7 separate regions of the Homo sapiens genome follow, and regions 2, 3, 4, 5, 6 and 7 are each linked to region 1. The links come from fine-mapping of genetic effects on gene expression. A gene starts in region 1. Each other region holds a variant in brackets. All regions are shown on one strand. Distances are between the middles of the regions.

Region 1 (4,065 bases):
TTTCCTGGGGAATTGGCCCAATGACTTCAAGTGGTTGATGTCATAATGAGTCCTTCCAAGATCTCTTTAAAAAATTGATGTGTTAAGTGATCTGTGGTGATGAGCACAGCTATACACGCCAGTTGGGAGTGCTGAAAGAAATGAATCCACAGATCTTGTGAAGTCACAAACGAGTCCTATGGCTTGGGATACAACATTGACAGTGAGAGTGATATTCCTCAATTAAAAAACGCTATAACAGGCCGGGTGCAGTGGCTCATGCCTGTAATCCCAGCACTTTGGGAGGCCAAGGTGGGTGGATCACTTGAGGTCAGGAGTTTGAGACCAATCTGGCCAACATAGTGAAACCGCGTCTCTAGTAAAAATACAAAAAATTAGCCAAGCATGATGGCATACACCTATAATCCCAGCTACTCAGGAGGCTGAGGCAGGAGAATCGCTTAAACCTGGGAGGTGGAGGTTGCAGTGAGCCGAGATCGTGCCACTGCACTCCAGCCTGGGCAAGAGAGCAAGACTTTGTCTCAAAAAAAAAAAAAAACAAAAAAAAAACAAAAAAAAAAACAAAAAAAACCAAAAACACACACACACAAAAAAAACGCTATAACAGACCAGTGGCACATGCCTGTGATCCCAGTGCTTTGGGAGGTAGAGGCAGGAGGATTGCTTGAGGTCAGGAGTTCAAGAACAGCCTGGGACACATAGTGAGACCTCATGTCGAAAAAAGAGAAAATTAGCCAAGTGTGGTGTGCCTCTATAGTCCCAGCTCTTCAGGAGGCAGAAGCAGGAGGATCGCTTGAGTCCCGGAGTTCGAGGATGTGGTGAGCTATGATGGCACCACTGCACTCCAGCCTGGGTGACAGAGTGAGACCCTGCCTCTTAGAAAACAGAAGCTATAACTCAAGCAACTTGGAAGTGAAATTCAAGTGCCTGACAGCTGTCTAGGTGCCCCTGAAACTGCCTCTAGTCACAACAAAGATACCTCCATCAAAGAGCATAGGAAGGGTTTGAATCAGATAGCTTCATGCAACACACGAACGGAAAAATAAATTTCTTAAAGAACATATTAGCTTCTTCCCATGAGATCAGGAAAACGGGACATCAATTGTCTGGGGTTCTTTGCTCCTGACTCCCTTTGGGGCTGGCACTATGTTGATCACGTTTTACAGATGGGGAAACTGAGGCTGTCGGTTTTTAAGTGGTCTGCCTAAGGTAGCAGTAAGGGTTGGTCTGACTCCAGCGCAGCCTCAACGAGGGCTTCAAATTAGGGCCATGAATTGGCAATTCCTGGCGGGTAATTGTGAAGAGTATATTTATTTTTAATTTTTATTTATTTATTTTTGAGACGGAGTGTCTCTCGGCCACACCCATCCTAGCTCATTGCTGTCTCGAACTCTCGAGCTCAGACGATCCTCCCGTCTAGGCTTCCCAAAGAGCTGGGATGACAGGCGTGAGCCCGGGCGCCCGGCCGGGAGTGTGTTAAGTATACGGCAAACACCTGGACTGCGGCCGGCTCTCCAGGAATGCCATGATATTGGGGAATTCCCTTTGCACCTGGCCAAGTGGCCTCGGGCAGGTAGCCTCCCCTCGGGTTGCCTCAGTTTCTTCTTTGGCACGCAGAGGCGGGGCTCCAGGCCTGGGCCGCTCCATGGCGGGGAGGGCGCGGGGACGCTGCACTCGGGGTGCGCTCCGAGAGGCGGACCCGGCTGGGCGCGCCTGGGGCGGGGCGAGGCGGGGCGAGGCTGGGCGGTGCGGGGGGCGGCCCCCGAGGATCACGTGGCGCGGCGCCGCGGCCGAAGCAGAAGTAGCGAGCGCCGGCGGCGGAGGGCGTGAGCGGCGCTGAGTGACCCGAGTCGGGACGCGGGCTGCGCGCGCGGGACCCCGGAGCCCAAACCCGGGGCAGGCGGGCAGCTGTGCCCGGGCGGCACGGCCAGGTGAGCTGCCCGGCCGGGAGCGAGGCAGGCAGGGCGCCCAGGGACCTGCGCCCCGCGGGGACCGGCTCCCAGGGCGCTGCGTCCGAGGGGGTCTGCGTCCTGGCTCAGCCGGAGCGGGCAGGGACGGGGCGCACCCTCGGGGACCCCGGCCCGCCGTGCCCGGGGTCCGTTTGGTGACGGCAGGGATCCTGGCCCAGCCGCTGGCCACTTCCTCACCCCGGGCCGGCGCCACCTCTCCGGTCCGTGCGGTGGGGCGGCCCCAGCTTTGAATGGGGACCGGGAGGAAGGTCAGGGGTCGTGTGGGGGCTGGCGTTCAAAACTCCTCTTTTCGAGCGGCTCTGCGTGGGGTGGCGCCGTCTCTCTTGACGGCCCTTGTGCCCAGAGCTCGCGGACGCTCGGAGCCACACTTCCCTGTCTCACTTCGGTGGTTGCGGGTGGCGGGTGGGAGCGATACCGCGGGAGGCGCAGTCCTTCCCGGAGACTTTTGGAGAGCTTGCAGGACACTCGCGATGCCCGCTCCGCAGCTGTCTGCGTAATTATGCGTGTGTCTGTGCGTGTTGTGTTTTGTTGTGTTTTGGAATCCCAAAGAGGGCATTACCCGCACAGCGCAAGAGTTCAGGTTAAAGACGTGCCCCGTTTGGACGGGGAGCTCCTGGATTCCAGCAGGACGGTGGGGCGGGGCTCTCTTGGTACCCTAATCTTGAACTAGGGTGAGAAACTATGGGGGGCGGGGTGGTAAAGGGGTGACATGGCGCGAGGGAAACAGGTGGCCTTGCCCGTCGGAACTTAATTTGAATTTCAGTTCCATCAGTGGGACCCTGGGCAAGTTGAAGAACCTTTTTGAGTCTGTTTCCCCCTCTGGATACTGGAGCCACCCAATTTTCCAGGGCTGTGTCGAGAATTGGGGCTTATTGCTGTTCCACGAGGTTCGCTGAGAATCGGGGCGCATCCATGGAGAGTCCTTGGGCAGTTCCTGACTCTCTGGTTCAAGGGCATTCTCTGGGGCATGGGCCCTCGTCCTTGACTACAGTTCTGCGGGGAAGTTTTACAGAATTTTGAAGTCTATGCCAGCCTCAAGCAGTTTCTCTTGCAAAGGTGTGTGTGCAGTCACGTGTATACCAGCTCAGGGACAATCGTCATTGTGAGCCTCACTGATGTTTAAGTCACCTAATGATGCAGCTGCCTTCCCCCACCAGCGACTGGAGTATGGGCAGTTCCTCTGGAAGTGGAAAAGCACAGACCCCATGAATAGCCCTTTTGCACTCATTGGGTAGAGTCAATGAAAAGCTGCTGGTGAGAAAACTTTTGAAAACATTTCTTGGTCAGGCACGGTGGCTCACACCTGTAATCCCAGCACTTTGGGAGGCCGAGCTGGGCTGATCACTTGAGGTCAAGCGTTCCAGACCAGCCTCACCAACATGGTGAAACCCCATCTCTACTAAAACTACAAAAATTACCTGGGCGTGGTGGTGGCCGCCTGTAATCCCAGCTACCCAGGAGGCTGAGGCAGGAGAATCACTTGAACCCAGGAGGTGGAGGTTGCAGTGAACCCAGATCATGCCACTGCACTCCAGCCTGGGTGACAAGAGAGACTCCATCTCAAGACAAACAAACAAACAAACAAACACACACAAACACTTCTTAATTTAGAAAACAGCAAGAACACAAAGAGAAAAATTTGCCCGTTACATCATCAGTTAATATAAATAAAGTCAAGTTGTATCCTCTACCCTCTCCCAGCCTCCGATAAATAGTAACCACTCTCCTGGATTTACCAGAAGATCACCTTTATAAAAAGGGAATTGTATTATACTCATACAGTTGCAACTATTGTCTGAAGCTATTTTTTTATTGACCTCACAAATCTTTCCAGATCAAATTGCTTATCTATCATCCTCATTCTTTCTGATGGCTACTGAGCGTTCTTCAGTGCATGTGCACCATTATTTATCCAGGAGGCCCCCCACATTGATGAGCAGTTGTTTTCTGTTTTTTTTTCTTTTTTTGTATTTCTATTGCAACTATTGCTTCCGTGATTTTCTGTCGTACATATTGCATCTTTGTGCATGTCTTTCTTTACATGTACAATTGCAGGATCGAAGCATATGCGTGTTTTGCTTTTTAGTAGCTGCTC
Region 2 (4,065 bases), 160 kb after region 1:
GGCCCCTTTTTAATACTTGGAACCCCCAGAGGGCAAGAGTCCACAGTGATACCAATTGGGACAATATCATCAGAACCCCTTGAATGTCAAAGAGGGAGATTCCTGGTTTCCTTTTATAATCTGAGCATCCAGCCATTGCAGCAAACATTAAGAAAATGCACAGATGAGACACAGAAGTACTGATGACCTTTTTCTCTGTGTGCAGAAAATCCTGACTTCCGAGAAATCCGCTCCTTTGTGGAGACGAAGGCTGACAGCATCATCAGACAGAAGCCCGTCGACCTCCTGAAGTACAATCAAAAGGGCCTGACCCGCGTCTACCCAAAGGGACAAAGAGTTGACTCTTCAAACTACGACCCCTTCCGCCTCTGGCTGTGCGGTTCTCAGATGGTGGCACTCAATTTCCAGACGGCAGGTAAAGGCCGACTGAAGGTAGTCCCGTCCCTGCAAGGTGGCGGTTGCAGTCACTCCAGGCCGAGTCACCTTGGGTCAGCGATACCATGTGGTGTCCAAGAATGAGTGATTTGTCCGAGGGACTGCACGGTTCAGCAGAGTAATGGTTAGTATGAGGTCCAGCAGCTGAATGGAGGGATGAGAGGACCGAAGGCTGCTTGGCTTACGCAGGCTTCGTGATTGTAAGTAAGTGACAGAGGCTGAGTTAGTCTGGCTTAGAAAAAGAAAATGCATTAGTTCATGTAATTAAAGCATCTTTGGAGTTCTCTTCTCCAGGCCTGTTGCTGTGTGAGGGCTTTCTGCTCAGACTTTCTTCCAGAGACATTTACATGCTGGCATAACTAACATACACAAACTTCTGGACACAAAGTGATCGCATAAATCACGGGGCTTTGTGCTTTTGTTGTTGTTATTTAAGACCTCTTTCGAGGGATCTATTCATCAGTAGCCTCCTTTACATTCTTTTTATAGCCACATCGGATTCCACAGAATGGAACAATCATTTATTTAATAAGTCCCCGTGGAGGCACATGTAGGTATTCCCCATTATTTGCTGTCATAGACAGCACTGCCTTCTGTACCCTGACGTGAGCGCCATTCCACAGATGTAGGAATATGTCTATGGGACAGAATTCTCAGAAAGGCAGGGTGGGTCAAACAGCGCTTGCATTTTGATCAACTTTGCCCTGAGGAAAACCACTGAAGACGTGCCTGAGCTAAGCCACACTGCCAAACTGCCCTCCATAGAGATCGTGGGCGGGGATGCAAATAGGTGGAGGTTGGAGTACGCTCTTTTGGTATGACTTCGCTGAGTTTTGTTGAACTTTTTGCCGTTTGCACAACTGAGAGGTGAAAACTGATACATCGTCGTCCATTAGAGCTTCTTCTTGTAAGGGACATTAACCAGTTTTTCCCTCATTTAGGGAGCAGTGGCATTTTCTTTTCTGGGAACTATTTGTGCTTCTTACCTGATGTATCTACTGCAGTAGGTATTTATAGCATAGATGTATCAGAACTAAGAGGTTAAAAATTTATATTCACATATTTGTCATTTGAATTAAAATTGCCTATGCAATTTATTGCTACATAGACACTTTTAGCAAGTTTGAATCTTTTCTTTTATGATTCGGGATTTGGTGACATACTTGGAAAGGTGTTCCCCAGTCTGGGAGTTTGCTGTCTAGAAACCCTATATTTTCTTTGAGTGAGATACCTATTTGAACAGCTGCCTCACATTAATTTGGGGAAAAGGTGAAATTCATTCCCCACCTAGAAACTCCTGGCCTAGGGGGCCAGCGTGCTCATGCCTGACTTACAGCAGGCGTTCACTTTCCTTCCCAGATAAGTACATGCAGATGAATCACGCATTGTTTTCTCTCAA[T/C]GGGCGCACGGGCTACGTTCTGCAGCCTGAGAGCATGAGGACAGAGAAATATGACCCGATGCCACCCGAGTCCCAGAGGAAGATCCTGATGACGCTGACAGTCAAGGTAAAGCCAGCCCTCCCTTCCTGCCAGGGGAGCCAGCCGCCCTCCCTGGGGGCTGGGCCGATGCTGTCTTGAGAGCAGGGAACCCATGTCTAGGGAGGCTGGTTGTCTTGTTTAAACGATCCCCATTCAGGCAGTGTTTGAGGATCTTTCTTTCTTACAGTACACTCCGGGGTCGTTCTGGGAGAAGAGGGAAGAGAGGGGAAACCTCCTCAAACCCACTTCCCCTTGTCCTCTGTGGGGGTGAGGTATGACCCTATCTTTCTGGGGTCCTGGTGAGGTCAGCCTCTGGCCGGAAAGAGAAAGAAAACATGGGAAACAGCCATTTGGTCTTAATGGAGAAGTTTTTTCCCTTACTTTGTCCAATTCCAGGGCTTTTTAAAATTCATCTGACTTTCAGAGAAAGTGTTGTTGCTTTGTAAGAATTTTTGAAAAGTAGAGAAATGAATTGCATTTCTCCTAAGGTTAAGGGCGGGCGGGTGGTAGGGGGAAGAAGCATACGTAAACACAGGCCTTTAAATAAACAGCAGTTATAAAAAGAATGCCACACTGTTCCTCAGCCTTTCCTAGGGGTGTGGAAATCCAGTGATTAAGCTCTGCCTTGATCAGAGGCACCTGCTTGGGCATGGATGTGTGCATTCATGAGCTCAGGTGAGTTTTACCTGTTGAGTCAGGTGGCATATGGGGCCGAGACCCAGGCTGATGCTGAGGAACTGTGGGATCTACCACAGTCCACCTTCATCCACTGCAGAAGGTTGCTCCGGCTTTTCCAGTGAATCTAGGAAAATTAGGGCTGGCATTGAACTCATCCAGTGTCACTCTAGAACCCAGCTGCAATCCACGCTAGGCTGCCTGTTCAGGACCCCAGGGGGGTTCCAATGCTTCCCTTTGGTGTCCCAGGTTCTCGGTGCTCGCCATCTCCCCAAACTTGGACGAAGTATTGCCTGTCCCTTTGTAGAAGTGGAGATCTGTGGAGCCGAGTATGACAACAACAAGTTCAAGACGACGGTTGTGAGTAAGTCAGTCACCTTGGCCCCTCTGCTTTTAAACGTCCGGCCAGTGAATCCTTTGTGGGAGTGCTCTTCGTGGGGGATTTTGCAATGCTCTTTAGTTGTCCCAGGGTTTTCTTTCCTCCCTCTTGCCCACATGGTTCAGCTTGAGGAGGGGATACATACAAAGGGCCACTTTCTGAAATCCTTAGACTTTCCCCAGTGCTGTTTGCCTGCCTGTAACTCAAGTCCGGAATCGTAGGTGAGGCCCTGACACTAGGTTGGTCCTCTCTGTGCAACAGCCCAATCTGATTAATCTCCTGAGTCAAAGGCCAAGAGGCAGAGACACAGAGAGAGGGGGTGAACCTACGTGGCTGACCTGACCCAGAGGATCAGCCTAACCTGGGAGATCTTAGCCCCTAGAGGGCAGGAGGGACAAGAGGAATGCTTGCTCTTCCAGGAAAAGCCAGGAGGGAACCGTGATTGGTGGGCCTTCTAAAGCACAGGATCCTTGCCCCTGGTAAAAAGTAGCCCAATGAACAACTCAGATGCTGACCAAATAAACTGGCATTTATGGAGAGTGGCAGGATTGCTGCTTGCCTGCTCTGTGAGGCTGGGCTCTCCCCTGCCAGCTGTAGAACCCCCTGCTGGTGGATGTGGCTCCCAGGCTCTCCTCCCCTTTTGTCTTTTCCAAAATCCACCTTCCTGCTCTGCAAACAAACACCTCCCCCGTTCCCTTGTCCCTGATCCTGGGGCGGGGAGATGGGAGGTGGTCTCCTTCCTCTGCTCACCAAGGGACCAGCCTGCAACAGCAGCTTCCAGGATTGCTCAAGGTGGGGTGGGGGAGTGAAGATAATTATTCAGATTTTCTTAGATCTTGGCATAGATGCATATTTATTTACATGGTTGCTAAGGGGATTCACAGCTGAAGGATGCGGAGATTGTCTTACCAGAAGGGGGCAGCTCCAATGTGGCCTCTCATGAGCTTTGATCTCCTTCCAGATGATAATGGCCTCAGCCCTATCTGGGCTCCAACACAGGAGAAGGTGACATTTGAAATTTATGACCCAAACCTGGCATTTCTGCGCTTTGTGGTTTATGAAGAAGATATGTTCAGCGATCCCAACTTTCTTGCTCAT
Region 3 (4,065 bases), 97 kb after region 1:
GTGCCCTAGATTGCCCCGTGTGGAACTTTGTATGGCAAAGATTCTGCCGATACCAAAGGTTGACCCCTGGTGGCCAGAATGCCACATTGAGCCTGCCCCTGGTTGTACTTGATCTAATGGTTTAAATATGTTAAAAATTAATTGCCTACATTTAAAACTTGAGAGATTATATTATATATTAAAATCTAGATATTTGGCTTCCCTTAGGAAAAAAATCGAGATCTGGCTATAAATAGGGTCACATCTCGCCATGGAACGGTCCACTTTCTCTGTATTGACCCAGCCCCATACAGCTCTGTCTGCTCATTTATGTTGCTTACCTGACCCCAAAGAAGTTTTGCTTTGGCAACCCTCATCTCCACTGTTTGAGGGTATAACTCTCCAGTTTGGTCACTGCATTTTAAAAATTTAATTTAGTGACAGATTTGAATAACAAAGTCCCAAGCTATGTAGATGGCTTCTGGCCAGCTCTAAGAACCTCACTGCTGTTGTGTAGGTAAATGCCCATCCCCTAACCTGTTAGCAAATTGTTTACTTCCTGTTCCTGGCTGGAAGCACAGGGCAGAGAAAAGTACCTGTTTTGTGATTTGGGGGGAATGAGGGCCTAGCTGGATTTCTCAGGCTCCTGCAGGAGACAGAGCTATTTATGGTGACTTATAATCCCCAGAACTAAATCCAGGGAGTGGGTTCATGCTTATCAGCAGCCAAATGGTTTCCATCGTGAGCTTGCTAGTTCCTCTTTGTGTCTAACCACCTGCCTACGTTCCACCTCTCGAGCTTCAGAGTTTCCAAAAGTTTGGCAGCAGCAGGAGGATAAGAAATGTAATCTCACGTTTGTGTCTCCCTGGTGAGGGGATATACCTCTAACTAGGCTGTAATAACAGTATCATTAACAAAGATGATAGCCAACATTTTCTCAGGTGGACTATTTGCTAGGCACTATCCTATGTGTTTTTTTTTTTTTTTTTTTTTTTTTTTTTATTTGAGACAGAGTCTTTCTCTGTTGCCCAGGCTGGAGTGCAATGGCACGATCTTGATTCACTGCAACCTCTTCCTTCCGGGTTCAAGCGATTCTCCTGCCTCAGCCTTCTGAGTAGCTGGGATTACAGGCATGCACCATCACGCCTGGCTAATTTTTGTATTTTTAATTGAAACGGGGTTTCACCGTGTTGGCCAGGCTAGTCTCGAACTCCTGACCTCAGGTGATCCTCCCGCCTTGGCCTCCCAAGGTGCTGGGATTACAGGTGTGAGCCATCATGCCCAACCTGCTCTATGTGTTTTGTATACATTTAATTCCCCCCTAGAGGCCTGTGCAAGAGCTACTGTTGTTATTGCCATTTTAGGGATTAAGAAACTGAGGTCCAGAGAGGTTACTTTGCTGAAGGCCTGTTTACTGCAGGGTAGTAAGCTGCAGAGCTAGGATTTGATTTTCTGCCCAACTTTGACGCATAGCCATGGAATACTTCTTAATTTTTGAATCCTTTGTATTAAAGAAAATGTAAAGCATATAGAAGTAGAGAGAATAGCGTAACAGACCCCCATGTATCATCAGCTGACTTCAGCCATTATCACCTTGTCACTGCCCTCACCCAAGTCCCTTTTCTCACACTTTGCAGCAGACATCAAGCAGCGTATCAGGTCATCTGCCAATACTGTAATTTAATACCTGGCTACGTGACTGCTACCCTGCTACCTCCTGATCAAACCTGTGAAGTCCCCTGTGGTTACAGCATTCTTACATAAAAATAGAAAGCACTTGCAAAAAATCAAAAAGAAAATTGAGAAGGCTGCTAACGTATCTCTGGTTGTTCCTATGATCCAGTAAGGCATTGAAGGATTATTCTGCCGGATTTTACATGGGTGTGAGCATGGGGGAAGTGAGTGATGAGCGTTCTGTGACGATGTTTGTGGAGGAGCTCAGAGATCTTGCAGTTTATTCTTATTGTCAGTGGCTGGCAAGAGGAGAGTCCACAGTGGAGAAGTTAGATAGAATCTCTGGTTAGCTTTTCTTTTTCTTTCTTTTTTTTTTTTTTTTTTTTTGTTTTTGAGACAGGGTCTCACTTTGTCACCGAGGCTGGGGTGCAGTGGTACAATCATGGCTCACTGCAGCCTCGAACTCCCTGGCTCAGATGATTCTCCCACCTCAGCCTCCGGAGTACCTGGGACCACAGGCGTGTGCCACCATGCAGGCTAATTTTTGTATTTTTTGTAGAGACAGTTTCACCATGTTACCC[A/G]GGCTAGGCTTGAACTCCTGGGCTCAAGTGATCCACCCGCCTTGGCCTCCCATAGTGCTGGGATTATAGACATGAGCCACTGTGCCTGGCCTAGCTTTTCTATTGATGAGATTTTACCCTTGGCCTTCCAGAACCAAATGGTTTCTACAGCCTAAGTACCACTGAGTGCGTAAGACCAGCTTCGGTTGTGAAAGGGCGTGTGCCTTCAGCCACGTGGGAAAACTCCATTCCTTTCCCTCCCTTTCTTAGTGCCCTGGCCCCTGCTTCTGTGACCCCCGCCTCTGGCATGGCCCCTTCTCTTGTCCAGCTGGTAACTTCTCCTGGGGCCCGACTCAGAGATGACATTTCCCTGTAGCCTTTTAGCTACCAGAAGAAATTAGTTTATCTATTATTTTAGTCACTCATCCAGTAAATGTGTGCGTGACCCAAGAGGCACAGTGGTTAACAATACAGCTGTTTCTCCTGACCTCACTGGCCCTTTGCTGGGGTGGGAAGGTCCTGGGATGTTGCCCAGAGTGACATAAGGCCCAGTGCCACCCCTGTCCCTTGGTTAGGTAGAATCTGACCACATAACCCTCCATGGTAATGCCGAACATAAATTAACTGCTGCCTCCACGGTGCACCCGTAGCATCTAGAATATTCTGTGATTGCTGGAATCTCATTTATTGTGTGTACATATGTACGTGTAGTGTGGGATGCTAGAGATTTACCAAGGTGGGCCTGGGTTGAAATTCTGGCCCTTGGACTTGTTAGGAGAAAAGTCCTTGCCTCCCTGGGCCTGTTTCTTGTTTCTGAAATGGGGCTTATTTTACTACCTGATGGGATCAGCAGGAGGAGTGACTGAGACTGTCACCGTCTTGCCCCAGCTCATGGAGCCCATGTTCATTTCCTGGGGCCGCTGTGGCAAGTACTGCAACTCGTGGCTTAAAAATAACAGAAGTGTCGGGCACGGTGGCTCACGCCTGTAATCCCAGCACTTTGGGAGGCCAAGGCGGGCGGATCGCGAGGTCAGGAGATCGAGACCATCCTGGCTGACACGGTGAAACCCTGTCTCTACTAAAAATACAAAAAAAATTAGCTGGGCATAGTGGCGGGTGCCTGTAGTCCCAGCTACTTGGGAGGCTGAGGCAGGAGAATGGCGTGAACCTGGAGGCGGAACTTACAGTGAGCCGAGATTGCGCCACTGCACTCCAGCCTGGGCGACACAGCGAGACTCCGTCTCAAACAAACAAAACAACAAAACACAGAAGTTTATTCCCTCACTGTACTGGAGGTTAAAAGTCCAAAATCCAGGTGTTGGCAGGGCCACACCCCTCGGAAGGCTCCAGGGAAGGATGTGTTCCAGACATCTTTCATGGCTTCTAGTGGCTGCCAGCAATGCTTCAAGCATTCCTCGGAGTGTGGACACCGCCTGGCTGCTGGTGGCTGCCAGCAGTCCTACAAGTGTTCCTCGGTGTGTAGATGGCATTGCTCTTTGGTGTGCAGACACCATCACTCCTCGGCATGTAGGCGTCATCGCTTCTTGGCGTGTAGATGTCATTGCATCGCTCCTTGGCTTGTAGATGTCATTGCATCGCTCCTTGGCTTGTAGATGTCATTGCATCGCTCCTTGGCTTGTAGATGTCATTGCATCGCTCCTTGGCTTGTAGATGTCATTGTGCCAGTCTCTGCCTCCATCATCACATGGACCCCTTTTCTCTGTGTGCTTCTCTGTCTCCAAATCTCCCTCTTTTTTTTTTAATTTTTTTTTTTTTTTTTTTTTTTTTTGAGAGGGAGTCTCGCTCTGTCACCCAGGCTGGAGTGTAGTGGCGCCATCTCGGCTCACTGCAA
Region 4 (4,065 bases), 130 kb after region 1:
GTAGAGCTGGAGTCTCACTACGTTGCCCAGGCTGGTTTTGAACTCAGCTCAAGCAATCCTCTGGCTTCGGCCTCCTGAAGTGCTAGGATTACAGCTGTAAGCCATTGCACCTGGCTGAAAATTAGAATACTAATAACACGCAAATAATCCTGGACACCTAAATGATGCTTACCATGTGCTGGGCAGTATTCGAGACACCTTGTGTGTGTGGTCTCGTTTACTCTTCAGGATGCCTCTTTGAGGTGGATACTGTTATCATTCCTGTCAGACCGCTGGGGTAGTAATACAGTGTGGCTCAGACAGCACGGGTGACCTGCTCCAGGACACTTGGTTCATATGTGGCAGAGCTGGGATTTGAATCCAGGCATCCTGGCTCTAGAGAAGCAGTTATATATATAAAAGGGGGATGGGGTGGGGTGGGGTGGGGGAAGTAGGTAGAATGTTCTGGAATCCAGGCTGAGGGTCTAGCCTATACTAAGGCCCTGCATCTGGTTTTGTTGTTGTTGTTGTTGAGATGGAGTCTCGCTCTGTCGCCCAGGCTGGAGTGCAGTGGCGTGATCTCGGCTCACTGCAACCTTCGTCTCCCAGGTACAAGTGATTCTCTTGCCTCAGCCTCCCAAGTAGCTGGGATTACAGGCATGCACCACCATGCCCAGCTAATTTTTGTATTTTTAGTAGAGACGAGATTTCACTGTATTGGCCAGGCTGGTCTGGAACTCCTAATCTCAGGTGATCCACCCGTCTCGGCCTCCCAAAGTGCTGGGATTACAGGCATGAGCCACTGCGCCCAGCCTCCTGTGTCTGTTCTAGGAGCAGAGGGAAGGTTGTGTGGCCACATGTAATGTCCCCGCCTCTGAGGCCCTGGCTGCCGCAATGGCCTGGCCTGCGTTCTCCCAGCACTGATGGCGTCCTCTCCCCGCAGGCGGTCAGGCCGGGTCCAGCACTGCCGGATCCGCTCCACCATGGAGGGCGGGACCCTGAAATACTACTTGACTGACAACCTCACCTTCAGCAGCATCTATGCCCTCATCCAGCACTACCGCGAGACGCACCTGCGCTGCGCCGAGTTCGAGCTGCGGCTCACGGACCCTGTGCCCAACCCCAACCCCCACGAGTCCAAGCCGTACGTGTCTGAGGGTGGAGCAGGAGGCAGGCGGTGGTCGGGTTAGCTCCACCAGGCAGAGAAGCTGGCCTGGTGGTTCAGCCGGGCCAGTCCCCCAGGACACCCTCTCCCCAGCCCACCGGCATCTCAAAATTGCCGAGGTGGCCAGTTTCCAAATTCCTGGCACCATGACCTGTGTCCTTTTCTCTTTTCTTTCTTTCCTCCCCTTTTCTCTTTTCCCTTTCTTCTACTTTGTCTTCATAGCCCCGAGACTTTGGGCTTTGATTTTCAGAGGGTCATTTTGGCCTGGGGATATTCTCTTACCTTTCAGAGCTCCTTCCTGTTTGTTCTGAAAATGAACAAGGAAACAATGATTATAAGAGTCTCCCGCTGATTTTTTTTATCTAGTGAAATGAGTATCAAGGTAGGTCTTGCGAAGGGTCAACAAATTCTGGGAATAAAGAAAAAACAATTTTTAGGCAGAAAGCTGCAAAAATGTCCATTTCCGAGGAGGCCGTATTACTTATAGCAACTTTTTTTTTCACTTTTTCTGTCACATTTTCCTATGGATTGCCTCTTAAAACTTGCTATTTCTTATCTTAAGAAATAACCCGAAAACAACCCAAAACCTTGTGAAACTCCTGCTGTGATCTCCGTCTTCGATTTTCTGAGACACGTGGCAATAACTGTGCCTCCCTGGGAGCCTGGCTTTTCAGGTTTGGGCTGCTTGGGTGGATGAAGATGAATCAATTTTTTGAGACAAGGTGTTGCTCTGTTGCCCAGGCTGGAGTGCAGTGGAACAATCACGTCTCGCAGCAGCCTCGAGCTCCTGGGCTCAAGTGATCCTCCCACCTCAGCCTCCTATCTGGGACT[G/C]CAGGTGTGTGCCACTGTGCCCAGCTAATTAATTAATTAATTAATTAATTAATTTTGAGACCGGGTCTCGCTCTGTCTCCCAGGCTGGAGTGCAATGGCACGATCTCAGCTCACTGCAACCTCTGCCTCCCAGGTTCAAGAGATTCTTGTGCCTCAGCCTCCTGAGTAGCTGGTATTATAGGCGCACGCCACTGGGCCTGGCTAATTTTTGTATTTCCTTTTTTTTTTTTTTTTTTTTTTTTTGGGACAGAGTCACATTCTGTTGCCTAGGCTAGAGTGCAGTGGCATGATCTCGGCTCACTGCAACCTTTGCCTCCTGGGTTCAAGTGATTCTCCTGCCTCAGCCTCCTGAGTAGCTGGGACTACAGGCGCCTGCCACCATGCCTGGCTAATTTTTTGTATTTTTAGTAGAGACAGGGTTTCACCGTGTTAGCCAGGATGATCTCGATCTCCTGACCTCATGATCCACCCGCCTCAACCTCCCAAAGTGCTGGGATTACAGGCGTGAGCCACCACGCCTGGCCCAATTTTTGTATTTTTAGTAGAGACAGAGTTTCGCCATGTTGGTCAGGCTGGTCTTGAACTCCTGGCTTCTCGCGATCCACCTGCCTTGGCCTCCCAAAGTGCTGGGATTACAGGCGTGAGCCACTGTGCCCAGGCTATTTTATTTTTTATAGAGATGGGGGTCTCATTGTGTTGGCCAGGCTGGTCTCAAACTCCTGACCCCAAGTGATCCTCCTGCCTCAGCCTCCCAAAGTGCTGGGATTTCAGGTGTGAACCACTGTGCTCGGCCCAATGTATTATTTTGGGCTTGAAACAGACCCCTGGGGTCTTCCACTATTCTTTTCACAAATTCTCTTTGCTGAGGTGCCTTTGTCTGGGGAAGCCCACTGTGTGATTTCCATGGTCGTTTCCAGGGCCAGGTTCCAGGTGTCACTGGTGCCATTATCTTGTCCTCTGCGGGTGGCCCACTGACAGCCTGGAGACCGCTCACCTGGTCGTTTTCCCTGGCCCTGTGCCGCAGGTGGTACTATGACAGCCTGAGCCGCGGAGAGGCAGAGGACATGCTGATGAGGATTCCCCGGGACGGGGCCTTCCTGATCCGGAAGCGAGAGGGGAGCGACTCCTATGCCATCACCTTCAGGTGGGTGCGAGGGTGGGAGGCACATGCTCTACAGAGGGGCTTGGCAAGGACAGATGCGGAGAGACAAGGGGGAACTTCAGGTGGAGGCTCACCTGCAGTGCCCTGCCCCCCCAGCATCAGCGACAACAACAACCACCACAGCAAAAGCCGCTGCGAGAATGTGCGCTCCTGCGTGCCAGGCACAGTCTGCGTTCTCCAGGGCAGGATGTTCTGTAGTAACTCACTTTGGCTTCCAGTAACTCTGTGGGGTTGACATGACCATGATCCGTGTTTCTCAGAGGAGGAAACTGAGGCACAGCAAGATTAAGTAACTTGCTGAAGCATGCAGCCACTAAGTGGTGGGGCTGGGATTCGAGCCCAGACAGCCCAGGCAGCCCAGGCCTGTGATGATATAGATCTGGTTTCCTCCCAACTGCAGCTGCTGCCCAACCACCTCTAGGCCTGTGGTTCTCTAATGTTACCCCAAAACGCCAGATTCTCCCACTTCCACTAATGACAAGGAGCCGAGGAGTGACTCAGACTCCGTGTAGCCTACTGTCCCTCCATCTCCCCAGCCCCAGGGTTTCCCTGCATGTTCTTACGGTGGTAACAGTCTGCTATATGTTGAGTTCCTAACCGTGTTCTAGACACTGGACTGCCTTCAAGGCCTCATCTGATTGAATCCTTTGCTACAGCCTGTGAGAGGTAGGTCTAGTTATTGCAAGGGAGGAAACAGGACCAGAGAGGTTAAGTGACCTGCCTGGAGTCACACAGCCTCATAGTCAACTGAGTTTGAGGTTCAGATGCAGGCCTGTCCGTCTCCAAAGCCTAAGCTCTTCACTCCAGAGTCTCTAGCCAGAGGCCTGGGGGCCAAATCTCCAGCCAGAGGCCTGTGGGCGTCTTTTGTACACTGATGTGAAAAACTGAGAAATTTCACTGAAAAACTCAGATTGCTTCTTGTGAAAAA
Region 5 (4,065 bases), 150 kb after region 1:
TGGGAGGTACAGTCTAAGCAAAGGTGTGGCAGTGGGAATGTGGTTGTGTTCCGTGTGCTTGGGCTGAGGCAGAGACTGGAAGCCCTTGCTTCCTCTGTACTGAGTTGCCCTTACCTGTACATCAGCATTTACCTGGTGCAGGGGGTGGGGTTTGGGGTGGTGCAGGCAAGGAGTGGATGCCTGGTTCTGCCACCTCTCCTAAGCCCAGGATATTCTTCATCTCAGCCAGACCCTGGGATGGTTCAAGGGTGCAATGGGAGGCAGAGCTGGAAAGGGTGATGGGGGCTCTGAAAGTCTTAAAAGCCAGGTCATAGAGCATGGGTGTTGCTTCCACAGGACATGGGGAGCCACAGAAGGTTCTTGAGCCGGGCTTTAGTAGGCAAAATAGTCTCATTTTCTAATAAGGTCAGATAAATAGTCTAGGATGTGTTTGGAAACCAGATCTGAGGAAGCATTATGAAACCTGTTCTAGAATTCACAAGGCACGTTTTTACGGATTGGAAAATGAAACTCCGAACCTCCTGGCACCCTCTCCCCGCCAGGTCCCTATCAGCTCCATGCTTCATTATTTAGCTCTCTCCCCATGGACGTATCTGGTAATGAAAATGCATTTTAAACAGTTCCACAGGCAGTATCTCTGCTAAACGGTGTGCTTTGGAAACGGGTTTTCTTTTTATTATTCCCGTTACAACTAACGTGAGTTATGTCTTGTTTCTTCACAGATTATTGAAGACAATCCCTTAGGGTCTCTTTGCAGAGGAATATTGGACCTCAATACCTATAACGTCGGTACGTGCACACATCATCTTAGCCTGGATTTCCACCCCTATCCCCCATGGGCTGACCTCAGCCCCGCCCTACACAGGGAGGTGGCTGACACAGGGTCCTGTCTTGAATGCCAGCTCCTTCCCTGGCTGAAGCTGAGTATTTAGGTCAGGCTGGTCAGTGAGTATGATGCTATGTCTGCTATTAATCTCTACTAAAACTGTAAGTGCTAAAACAAGGTCTCGTACATAAGTGCTAGATGGTGGTTAGCGGATATTATTACCAGCGTCACTCTTATTATTTCAGGATCCATCTGTGTTTCCCATGCGTTGCGAAGGAAAGCTGAGCTGTCAGCCTGGCTGAAATGCAGCGTGGAGTTGGGAGTCTTGGGTTCTAAACCCAGCTCTGCCTCTCTGTCGCTGTGAGACTACAGGCCTGTCACTTCTCCTCTTTGAACCTCTGCTTCCTGGTTGCTCGGCTGGGGCCCAGGAAACCCAGCCCGCCCACGTTGACCATGCTGCAACGGGATGTGAAGGCGTGGCCCCAAGGCTAGGCTTGTCCAGTGGTGGCCAGGGTCTGATGTGTGCTGGGTTTCCTGGGTCTTGAGCCTGCCTGCTTTGAAGTGGGTGTGGTGCAGCTCCCATGTGAAGGGACTCTGTAGCGGGCCTCCTTGTTCTGGGCAGCCCATGACCCTCCCTGGGCAGGCACGGGCATGCTCCCCTAGGACTCAGGTGACAGCAGCCCCAGGAACTTCCTGCTTCTATTGCCAATGCTCTGCTTTACACATTCATTCATTTATTATTATTTCTTTTCGCGATAGAGTCTCGCTGTGTCACCCAGGCTGGAGTGCAGTGGCGTGATCTTGGCTCACTGCAACCTCTGCCTCCTGGATTCAAGTGATTCTCCTGCCTCAGCCTCCTGAGTAGCCGGGACTACAGGCATGGGCCACCGTGCCTGGCTAATTTTTGTATTTTTAGTAGAGCTAGGGTTTCGCCATGTGGGCCAGGCTGGTCTCAAACTGCTGACCTCAAGTGATCTGCCTGCCTTAGCCTCCCAAAGTGCTGGGATTACAGGCATGTGCCACCATGCCCAGCCTGCTTTCCACATTTATAACCTGCTTCTTTACCTTTACAATGATCCAGCAGGATAGGTAGGAGAGGGATTCTTTGCTCCGATTACCAGATGGGAAAATCAAGGTCCTAAGTGACCGACCACCACATGTGCTGAGGTCCTTTGGGCAGGGGGGTGCAGGATCCCTGCATCCACTTCTGGTGCTCTTTGTATCATCTTCCCCCATCCCTGTATCTGCAGAGCAGAGGCACATGGCTCATTGGTTCTGAGTAGAAATCTTGGAGTCAGGTTTGAACTGAGCCTCAGTTTTACTACTACTAGCTGTATGACTTTCCACATGTGACTTTCTCTTAATGAGCCTCAGTTTTGCCTCCTGCAAAATGGGCCTAGCAAAAGCAGGGTGCCTTTAGTCTCAGCTACTCAGGAGGCTGAGGTGGGTGGATCCCTTGAGCCCCAAGAGTTTGAGACCAGCCTGGATAATGTAGCAAGAGCTCAAAATTAAAAAAATAAAATAAAATAAAGATGCAATACATGTAATCTGCTTAGAATATTGCCTGGTATATAAGAGCTCAGAAATCTTAGCTACTAATATTATTTGGCAGATAAGTTTCCCTGTCATAATCTTTTCTTCTCTGTAAGATCCTTTCTCTGTGTCTGGAGAACCCACGCCACATTTCTCTCCTAGTTTCTGGTGACTCTTTGGTGTTTTTGGCTCATGGCTGCATTC[T/C]TCAGTCTCCACATTTGCCTGCACATGGCTTTCTCCCTTGTGTCTGCATCTGTTTTTAAAGCCATTTAGCTGGGTGTGGTGGCTCATTCCTGTAATCCCAGCACTTTGGGAGGCCAAGGTGAGTGGATCGCTTGAGCTCAGGAGTTCGAGACCAGCCCTGGGCAACATGGCGAAACCCCTCTCTACAAAAAATACAAAAATTAGCCAGGCTTTGTGGTGTGCACCTGTGGTCTCAGCTACTAGGGAGGCTGAGGTGGGAGGATCGCATGAACTTGGAAGGTGGAGGCTGCAGGGAGCCAAGATCGCACCACTGCACTTCAGCCTGGGTGACAGAGTGCCACCCTGTCTCAAAAAAAAAAAAAAAAGCCATTTAAATTATTTATTCTTTATATGTAAAAGATTATATGTAACAACATAGAAAATTATGCACAATATGCTAAGTGAAACAGTTCACAAAATTTTATGTATTGTATGTAAACATTTTGTAAAAATGCCAAGTTGCTTAGCTATATTTTAAATATTTTTAAAATGAACATGTATTGTTTTAGTAATTTGTAAAAAATATTTATGATGAGTGTAAAAAGCATTTTCTAATTGGTCAACCAAAAAGATATTCAGTGTTTCTTTTGATCAAGACGAACACATGTCTATAACTAAAGTGGACAAGAGGGTATTTTTTTCAGGTTCTCTCATGCATTTTAATGTTTGTTTTTTTTTCCTGCATCTTAAGTGTCCCTCTCCTTTCTCTTATAAGGATACTCATACTTGTTGGATGTTGGAATTGCCCTAAATCCAGGATAATCTCATATTGAGATCCTTAACCTAAGTACATCTGCAACGACCCTATAAGGTCCCATTCACAGGTACTGGTGACCTGACACATCTTTTCGGAGGACCCTACTGAATCTACTGCATCCCTTGAGTAGTCATCTGTGATGTGTACTTACCCCGATGGAAAGTAGACGTCCCCATCAGTGCTAACCGTGGTCATAGCAGTGGTGGTTGGTCCATGAGAGAAACAGCTCAGGCAGGGTGCAGTCTGGTCTTTGTGGCCCTCTAATAGGCTGATTGGGACATTTCTTATTCTCTTACCCCAAGTGAAAGCCCCTCAGGGAAAAAACCAGAAGTCCTTTGTCTTCATCCTGGAGCCCAAGCAGCAGGGCGATCCTCCGGTGGAGTTTGCCACAGACAGGGTGGAGGAGCTCTTTGAGTGGTTTCAGAGCATCCGAGAGATCACCTGGAAGATTGACACCAAGGTAGGCACCTGCTCACCCGGGTGCAGGTGGGCCTGGCATTCTGAGGGCTTTGGTGCTCAGTTGGGACTGTGGGTGGGTCCAGGCAGCAGGATGAGCAGGCCCAGGTCCTACTCAGAATTCAGGAAGGAGACCAGGTGGATTCAGACAATTGGAGCACCTCTTGTTAGAGAGAGGCAGGGATAGTGGAGGTGCCCTGGGAAGGTGGGTCTGGTTGTCTGGTTCGAACCTTCAGAAGGCTGAGTGCCT
Region 6 (4,065 bases), 40 kb before region 1:
TCCTGCAGCCCCTGGCAGCCACCGTCCTGCTTTCTGCCTCTATGAATCCGACTACTCTAGGAGTCTCCTGTTTGCAGAAACTACAGTATTTGTCCTTCTGTGTCTGGTTTACTTCACTTAGCACAATATCTCTGAGGTTTATCCATATTGTACCGTGTGTCAATTTTTTTTGTTTTGTTTTTTGTTTGTTTGTTTCTTTGAGATGGAGTCTTGCTCTGTTGCCCACGGGAGTGCAGTGGCGCAATCTCGGCTCACTACAACCTCCGCCTCCCAGGTTCAAGTGATTCTCCTGCCTCAGCCTCCTGAGTAGCTGGAATTACAGGTGTGCACCACGACGCCCAGCTAATTTTTGTATTTTTACTAGAGACGGGGTTTCACCATGTTGGCCAGGTTGGTCTCCAACTCCTGACTTCAGGTGATCCGCCTGCGTTGGCCTCCCAAAGTGCTGGGATTACAGGCATGAGCCACCGCGCCTGGCCATGTGTCAGAGTTTTATTTCTTTTACAGTTGACTAATATTCTGTTGTCTGTCTAGACCACATTTCTTTATCCATGCACCTGTGGATAGACTTTAAAAATCCACAGCGGTGGGTTTTTAAAGTGTCCTGGTGGTGCTGCTGTGCAATCAGTGATGAAAACCAAAGCCTGGATGGCACGGTGGCTCATGCCTGTAATCCCAGCACTTTGGGAGGCCAAAGCGGGTGGATCACTTTGAGGTCAGGAGTTGGAGACCAGCTTGGCCAACATGGCGAAACCCCGTCTCTACTAAAAATACAAAAAATTAGCCAGGTGTAGTGGTGGGCACCTGTAATCCCAGCTACTCAGGAGGCTGAGGCACAAGAATTGCTTGAACCCAGGAGGCAGAGGTTGCGGTGAGCCGAGATCGCGTCACTGCACTCCAGTCTGGGCGACAGAGTGAGACTCTGTTACATAAAAAAGAAAAGAAAGAAAAAACCAAGGCATAAGTCCAGCATTTCGCAAATCCTCTCTGCACAATAGAATCACCTGAGAGCTGTTTTAAACAATGCGGATGGCTGGCGCCTGTCCTAGAGCAGCTGCATCAGATTCTGGGCTGGGGGAGAGGTGGGGCTAGCCAGGAATTGAGTTCCTTGCAGCGCGGGGGAGGGCAAGGTGTGCAGAATTATTTCCCAGTCTCTGCTGCCTCCTGGTGGCACAATTGACAACAGTCGGGTAGTGACGCCTGTCAGCATGGTTCCTCTTCCTCTCCAGGGCTGGCTTACCCAGCCCCAAAGGACCCCACTCCCGGGGGTCTGGGGACCCTGAAGGCTCTTGTCTGACCCCTCTCCCCACCTGTATTTCCTGGCTGGCCTTGCGTGCCTCTGTGTTTAGAAGAACCGACGAGTTTATTAGAGAAGGAAAGACTGCACTGTGTGACCTTGAATAAGACAGTTCGCCCGTGCCTCAGTTTCCCTGACTTTCACGCAAGGATCACCACGGTTTCCTCTGTCAAGTTCCTGAGATGGCAGGCAAGCATGCGTGTTAGGGCTGGGGAGGCCACCGCGGGGAGGTTTCGTACCCTCAGCATAATTGCCATTAGGGGCCAGATCACTTGGTGGGGACCGTCCGTGCACTGTAGGGTGCTGAACAGCTTCCCTGGCCTTGACCTCCTAGATGCCAGTAGCATCCCTGAGCTGGGATAATCAAAAACTGTCTCCAGATAGGGGCAATGTCCCCTGAGTGCAGGATTGCCAAATAAAATAGTTAAATTTGAATTTAACTTTGAAAATTTGAATTTCAGATAAGCACATAATGTTTTTGTATAATTATGTCCAAAGACTGCATTTTTATTTCCTAAATCTGGAAACCCTTCCTGAGGGACAAAATCACTCCAGCTGGCACTAGCCAGTGCCCTTGTGAGTTTTTGACACCTGTTTCAAGAACTCACACCAGGCTG[G/A]GGGCTAAGGCGGCAGATGGGGAAGTTGTGGCAGGGGCGGAACTTGCCCCAGCCTGGCAGGGGGAGGGGTGCCGTCTTGCGGGAGTGGGACAGGCAGGCCCAGGAGTGATAAGCGTGAACTAGAGAGTGCTGTGCAGGAGGAAGCTGGGGCCGCCGTCGGGCCTTCTCCCTCCAGGGGCCCAAGAGCCACTGGTACTCAGTGTCTGGGTGGGGGCAGGGGGGATTTTTGTTCTCCCAGCACCTGCGGCTGTTGAGACCAGAGAAGCTGGTGGTCGACCACAGCCTGGGGTATTAGTTCACCCCTAGCTTCTCCCCAGCGAGACCCCAGGGCCCTTGGGCACAGGGGATTAAGCCTCTATCTGCTTACGTGCAAGCGGAAGAAATAGGCCCAGAGAGCAACAGTGGCGGGTCTGCAGTCACACAGCCAACTTGCGCTTGTGGCAGTGGCAAGGTTGGTGAGTATCTGAGTCTTCAGGCCACGGCATTTTCCGCTCGAGTGGAGCCTGGTAAGTGGCCTCTATTTCTGGTACATTCTCTGGGAGCCCCCAGTATTTTCCAGACAGAGGGCACTGAAGACAGGCTTTGTGCTGAGGATGGGTCACCTGAGGTCCAGCTGCTCCCCCGTACTCCTCCAGGGAAGGGCTGGGACCCCTTCTCCTGCGGCTGCCCCTAAAAGGACAGATTGTTGCTTTTGTGGGATGAGGAGAGACAATGTGGCATGGTGGTTAAGCACGTGGACTTGGAGCCAGACGGCCTGGGGCTGAATCCTGGCTCCGCCTCTCACCAACTGTGACCTTGGGCAAGGTACTTAAACACCCTGTGCCTCCATTCTTAATCCATGAAATGGGCATGATGAAATGACACCTACTCCGTAGGGTTGTTAGAAGAATGAAATGAATTAGTAAGTGCTCAGAACAGTGTGTGGGGCCGGGCACAGTGGCACATGCCTGTAATCCCAGCGCTTTGGGAGGCCAAGGCAGGTGGATCACTTGAGGTCAGGAATTTGAAACCAGCCTGGCCAAGATAGTGAAACCCTGTCTCTACTAAAAGTACAAAAATTAGCTGTGTGTGGTGGCCCATGCCTGCAATCACAGTTACTCGGGAGGCTGAGGCAGGAGAATCACTTGAGCCTGGGAGGTGGGGGTTGCAGTGAGCTGAGACAGCGCCAGTGCATACCAGCCTGGGTAACAAAGCAAGACTCTGTCTCCAAAAAAAAAAAAAAAAAAAAGAAAGAAAAGAAACAAAAAGAAAAGAAGAAAACCAGTGTGTGGCAGGTACGCAGGTAGTAAGGTTTACTTTTCTTCTAGTGACATTTACTGTCTTCCTTAGGAAGCTGGTTCAGTGGGGCTGTCGACCACAGGTACCAACCCTGCCCTCCCCTACAGAGTATGTGACGTAGGCACAGCCAATGACTGCATCCCAGTGCTTCGACCAGTCACAGGGTCAAGGGTGAGCACGTGACCCCAGCAAATGAGCACATCCCTGGGGCTGGCGTGCAGAGGCTCTGGGAGTAAAGCTTCCTTTTCCCTGGCCAGGTGCAGTGGCTCACACCTGTAATCCCAGCACTTTGGAGTCCCAAGCAGGCAGATCGCCTGAAGTCGGGAGTTTGAGACCAGCCTGGGTGAAACCCCATCTCTAATAAAAGTACAAAAAATTAGCCGGGTGTGGTGGTATGTGCCTGCAATCCCAGCTACCCAGGAGGCTGAGGCAGGAGAACTTGGGAGGCATAGGTTGCACTGAGTTGAGATAGTGCCAGTGCACTCCAGCTTAGGCAACAGAGCCAGACTCCATCTCAAAAAAAAAAAAAAAAAAAAAAAAAAAAAAAAAAAACCGAAACCAAACCAAAACACAACCAAAGCTTCCTCTTCCCACTGTGGGTGCAGAGGCCTGGGGCTGTGGTCAGCATCCCTAGCACATGGGGCTTAAAAAGAATGAAACCAACCCATTGAGGGTTCTCTTGAGTCCCTGGATTCACCTTGCCTGCCAGGCAGAATCCTCCCTGGAATTCCCACAGATGTGAGACAGTGAATCTCCCAGTTTGCTTAAGCAAGTTTGAATAGAGTTCTAATCCATGCACCCTCTGTGCCCCATAGAGCAAGAGGGGTTCCCCCAAGGCAGTCCCCTTCCTCCATAGACCAGCGCTCTTGGCCT
Region 7 (4,065 bases), 180 kb after region 1:
CCCTTTGGGCATGCTTGTGAGATGCCAGGTTCACATTTTGGTTTGGAAGGTGTAGTCACCACATGGTTGTTCTCTCCCCTGCATCCTCCAGGAGAGCGAAGAGGAACTTTACTCCTCCTGTCGCCAGCTGAGGAGGCGGCAAGAAGAACTGAACAACCAGCTCTTTCTGTATGACACACACCAGAACTTGCGCAATGCCAACCGGGATGCCCTGGTTAAAGAGTTCAGTGTTAATGAGAACCAGCTCCAGCTGTACCAGGAGAAATGCAACAAGAGGTAGGTCAGCCCCTCCACCTGCAAAAACTTTTGGGGGGTCTCTAGGCACGGTGATGATGGGCACCACGGGCCAGGCTTCTGGAAAGCCCTCTGAGTTGCTTTCTTCAGAAATCCTTGGCCGGGCATGGTGGCTCACAGGCCAGGCATGGTGGCTCATGCCTGTAATCCCAGCACTTTGGGAGGCTGAGGAGGTTGGATCACCTGAGGTCAGGAGTTCAAGACCAGCGTGCCCAACATGGAGAAACCCTGTCTCTACTAAAAATACAAAAATTAGCTGGGCATGGTCGTGGGCGCCTGTAATCCCAGCTACTTGGGAGGCTGAGGCAGGAGAATCATTTCAACCTGGGAGGCAGAGGTTGCAGTGAGCCGAGATCACACCATTGCACTCCAGCCTGGGCACCAGAGGGAGACTCTGTCAAACAAACAAACAAACAAACAAACAAAAAATCCTTTGGCACCCTTGACTCTAGTTCTCTTTGTTCTAGAAATTAACCTACAGTAATACCTTAGGCGCTTGCCACTTCCCCTAAGTAGAACTGTTTCCTCTAGAAGGACACTTCAATTTAATAGCGAAAATAAATGATGACCACTGACTTTTAAGGAGTACTTATTGTGTTTCCAAGAATGGGCTAGTCCAGCGGCTCTAGACTGGGTCAAGATCCCCCAACAGGGATGCTTGTGGTTGTGCTACAGGCATGTAATGGGGTGCGGGGCGGCCGGGGTTGCCAAGTGTTTCATAATATGTCTAAATCTTCTAAGAAAGAATCATCCAGACAAAAATCCTAATAGTAGCCACCAACGAGAAACTGTGCTGCCTCCCTTACTCACATTATTCTCATTGAATCTTCATGTCAGCCTGCAGAGTAGCTCTTACTCTGTTTTACCATTGAGGAGATTTAACCTCTCTGAGTCTCAACGTCTTACCAGGAACTTGGAGTCTGCCTCTCTGACACTCAGCCCTATACCATCCAGCTATGAATGACTGGCAAATGTACAGAAAGAGAAATGTTACAGAGTTCAGCACGCAGCCCATTTCTCATGGCCCACTGCTGATGGTGAAATCTGTTTTATTTCAGGTTAAGAGAGAAGAGAGTCAGCAACAGCAAGTTTTACTCATAGAAGCTGGGGTATGTGTGTAAGGGTATTGTGTGTGTGCGCATGTGTGTTTGCATGTAGGAGAACGTGCCCTATTCACACTCTGGGAAGACGCTAATCTGTGACATCTTTTCTTCAAGCCTGCCATCAAGGACATTTCTTAAGACCCAACTGGCATGAGTTGGGGTAATTTCCTATTATTTTCATCTTGGACAACTTTCTTAACTTATATTCTTTATAGAGGATTCCCCAAAATGTGCTCCTCATTTTTGGCCTCTCATGTT[C/G]CAAACCTCATTGAATAAAAGCAATGAAAACCTTGATCAATTAAGCCTTCTGTTGCACGACCTGTGCAGTGAACAGGATTTCTTTTCTGGCCAAGAAGATTCTACCTCTAATGATCCAGGTAACTGATGTCCATGGAGGATGAGCTGGAAATGTAAGAAACTATTCATGAGATTCTGAAAAGGATTTTAACTCAAAGGCAAATGATTCCATAAGGGCCCAAAGAGAAGCCCTACCCACAGGCAGCCTGCTCAGTTCAATGTACTTTAACTACCACCGGCTGCCTGCTGCAGTCCACAAGAAAATGGCTGAGTGATGGGATCTGTTCATTAAGACAATTTCTAATTAATGGTGACAGCTTGTTTTGTGACTAGAGTTACTGGGATGGAGGGTAGGAATCTTGGGGCCTCTTTGTTTTAAAAAGCCCATCAGAGAGACCAGAGCCGTGCTGCAGGGGCAGGTTCTCACTTGCCCCTGGCTCTGCCAGCTGCTGGGAGGCTCTGGCCCCACTAGTCCCTCATGGCCCTACTGAACTGGCTGGGAGGCTGCTGGAATGGCCCTTGGTCCACAGCTCTCCACAGGCAAGAGGTCAACTGCTGCTTGAAAGAGGTAGACAAAAGTTAGGTTGATGGCGAAATGTCTCTGGGTTACCCAGTCTTCTGGAGCAGCAAGCTGAGCTTTAATGGGCTAAGCATTAGGGTGTTACAGAAAATTTCAAATGCAGCCATCTCCCTTGGGGCAGATCTACCTAGTTCATGACAGTATGTGCGGCTGGCCAGGGCTTTACACCTCTGCATCTTAAGTTGTTAATACATACCAATAATGTAATATGGCTTTTTAAAGGAGAGGAGAGTGCTGGGTTGGGAAGGGAGGTGGTTGGTAGAGTCACAACTTCTCAATGAGTGAATTTACAGCTGATGGGAAAAGGAGTGTAACTGTGAAAAACGATGGCTGTGGTGGGGAAGAACAAACCAGCAGTAAGCCTGATGTTTGATGTGGATGGAACTGGCCCCTAGAAACCCATCTGACCCTCCTCTTGTTACCCGAAATGCTGGGCTTAGTATGCATGTACTGCTGAAAAGCAGGGCAGAACAAATCAGGCTCTGACCAGAAGATCCTTCTGGTCCCTTCACTCTACAAAAACTTACTGATCACCTCCACATGCCAAATACAGTGCCAAGATTTGGGGGTGTGGATGTTTAAACAAAAAGCTGTGGGTCTCATCAATCATCTCCATCCACAAGCTCCTAAAAGAAAGCCATTTACCTCGCTTGAAGCCAGGAACACAGGGAACAGCAGTCTGGCCAAGGAAGGGCTGTTATCTGGTGCTATCACTCCAGTTACTCCTCCAACTGGGAGCTGCTATTTTATTTGGCAGTCAGCAACTGAAGAAAGAACATTCCTCTTAGTGGCAGATGTTCAAAGCAACTTTCAAGAAAGGCTAGGTGAGAAAGGCACTGGGATGAGTGCTGCAGGCACTCTGTAGCCAGGGCCCCATTAGCCTTTGGCCAGGTAGCCACCAGAACCTATTTATTGCACCTGGCATCTCCCCCAACCCCTCTCAGCTCTGTTAGGACTTCCACACAGCAGAGCTCAGGTGTTGCTGTCATTACCTCCTTTCAGCTCCTCACTTCATTCTACTTTAAAGCCACAGTGCTAAGGCCTGCATCCCCTTTCTGCCCAAATGGGTTTTTTGCTACCATATCAAAGAACCTGACATATGGCGGCATAGGAAGCAGAAGCTAAGCCTCTCTCCAGCTGCTGCTGTGTAAAATCCATGCGTGGCCAAAGAGAAGTCAGGGGATTATGACATAAATGGTGCTGGGAAGAACCCTCTGCCTAAAACTGTCTCCTTCTCCTGGTGCTACAACCGGAATCCACCATGAGAGAGTACTTTCTTCGGTTCTTTCCTCCTGTCCTTGACAGAGTAACACGTTAATCTGGTTCTTGGTGGTGTTAGGGACTGATTCTCTCAGGAAAGGCACACATGGTATGATGGCTCTTCCCAGAGTCTATGTGATGCTACATAACTTCAGTATCTAGCTGAGACATGCTTCCTACATGACTGTTAAAGCACAGCCAATCCAGGCCAAGAAGACTAGTAACAGGCACATTCTGAAAGATGGAAGCAGCACTGATAGATCAAAACCACCACTGCATATGTATTACACTGTTTTTGTTCACCATTTTCCTAAGTGTGTTATTTAGAATATTGGTTATTACAAGGAAAAATAAAGTGGGGAGGCTGGTTAGGCCTTGTGAGTTTGGGAAACTTAGGTTATAAAAACTAAATAAAGTTTTTCTACTGTGAGACTAGATGTGCAGGAGTGAAAGGTGTAGAGGGTCTTGTTTTCCAAATTCGATCTCAGAATCTTTTTGCCAGAAGTGTCTCATGGGACTTATCTATAGTGG

The links.
Region 2: its variant is fine-mapped to the expression of PLCG2 in whole blood (INTERVAL, PIP above 0.99). The same link has a PIP of 0.9 or more in monocytes.
Region 3: its variant is fine-mapped to the expression of PLCG2 in subcutaneous fat (GTEx, PIP above 0.99). The same link has a PIP of 0.9 or more in skeletal muscle.
Region 4: its variant is fine-mapped to the expression of PLCG2 in whole blood (TOPMed, PIP above 0.99).
Region 5: its variant is fine-mapped to the expression of PLCG2 in whole blood (TOPMed, PIP above 0.99). The same link has a PIP of 0.9 or more in pancreas.
Region 6: its variant is fine-mapped to the expression of PLCG2 in whole blood (INTERVAL, PIP above 0.99).
Region 7: its variant is fine-mapped to the expression of PLCG2 in whole blood (INTERVAL, PIP above 0.99).

The regions. Positions count from the first base shown.
Region 1 is chr16:81,777,494-81,781,558 of GRCh38, forward strand. It overlaps PLCG2 (phospholipase C gamma 2), which reads left to right and starts at 1,798. Exons shown (of 33, transcript NM_002661.5): 1 at 1,798-1,931. RefSeq lists silencers at 1,291-1,585, 1,614-1,883, 1,914-2,013, 2,024-2,103.
Region 2 is chr16:81,935,964-81,940,028 of GRCh38, forward strand. It overlaps PLCG2 (phospholipase C gamma 2), which reads left to right. Exons shown (of 33, transcript NM_002661.5): 27 at 206-415; 28 at 1,795-1,940; 29 at 2,838-2,952; 30 at 3,929-4,065. Among named protein-coding and RNA genes, the nearest start is that of SDR42E1, 73 kb to the right of the region's middle. The variant T/C (reference allele first, on the strand shown) is at 1,835.
Region 3 is chr16:81,873,998-81,878,062 of GRCh38, forward strand. The region is part of intron 7 of PLCG2 (phospholipase C gamma 2); the gene reads left to right. Among named protein-coding and RNA genes, the nearest start is that of PLCG2, 97 kb to the left of the region's middle. The variant A/G (reference allele first, on the strand shown) is at 2,235.
Region 4 is chr16:81,909,598-81,913,662 of GRCh38, forward strand. It overlaps PLCG2 (phospholipase C gamma 2), which reads left to right. Exons shown (of 33, transcript NM_002661.5): 18 at 923-1,123; 19 at 3,000-3,119. Among named protein-coding and RNA genes, the nearest start is that of SDR42E1, 100 kb to the right of the region's middle. RefSeq lists an enhancer at 3,215-3,714. The variant G/C (reference allele first, on the strand shown) is at 1,976.
Region 5 is chr16:81,927,836-81,931,900 of GRCh38, forward strand. PLCG2 (phospholipase C gamma 2) reads left to right here. Exons shown (of 33, transcript NM_002661.5): 24 at 723-789; 25 at 3,662-3,819. Among named protein-coding and RNA genes, the nearest start is that of SDR42E1, 82 kb to the right of the region's middle. The variant T/C (reference allele first, on the strand shown) is at 2,564.
Region 6 is chr16:81,737,017-81,741,081 of GRCh38, forward strand. LOC105369213 (a long non-coding RNA gene) reads left to right here and starts at 2,025. Exons shown (of 4, transcript NR_189584.1): 1 at 2,025-2,420; 2 at 3,244-3,363. It also overlaps a transcript of PLCG2 not described here. RefSeq lists enhancers at 1-336, 1,241-1,300, 1,527-2,309, 1,871-1,920. The variant G/A (reference allele first, on the strand shown) is at 1,915.
Region 7 is chr16:81,956,604-81,960,668 of GRCh38, forward strand. It overlaps PLCG2 (phospholipase C gamma 2), which reads left to right. Exons shown (of 33, transcript NM_002661.5): 32 at 92-276; 33 at 1,353-4,065. The coding sequence ends at 1,395. Among named protein-coding and RNA genes, the nearest start is that of SDR42E1, 53 kb to the right of the region's middle. The variant C/G (reference allele first, on the strand shown) is at 1,656.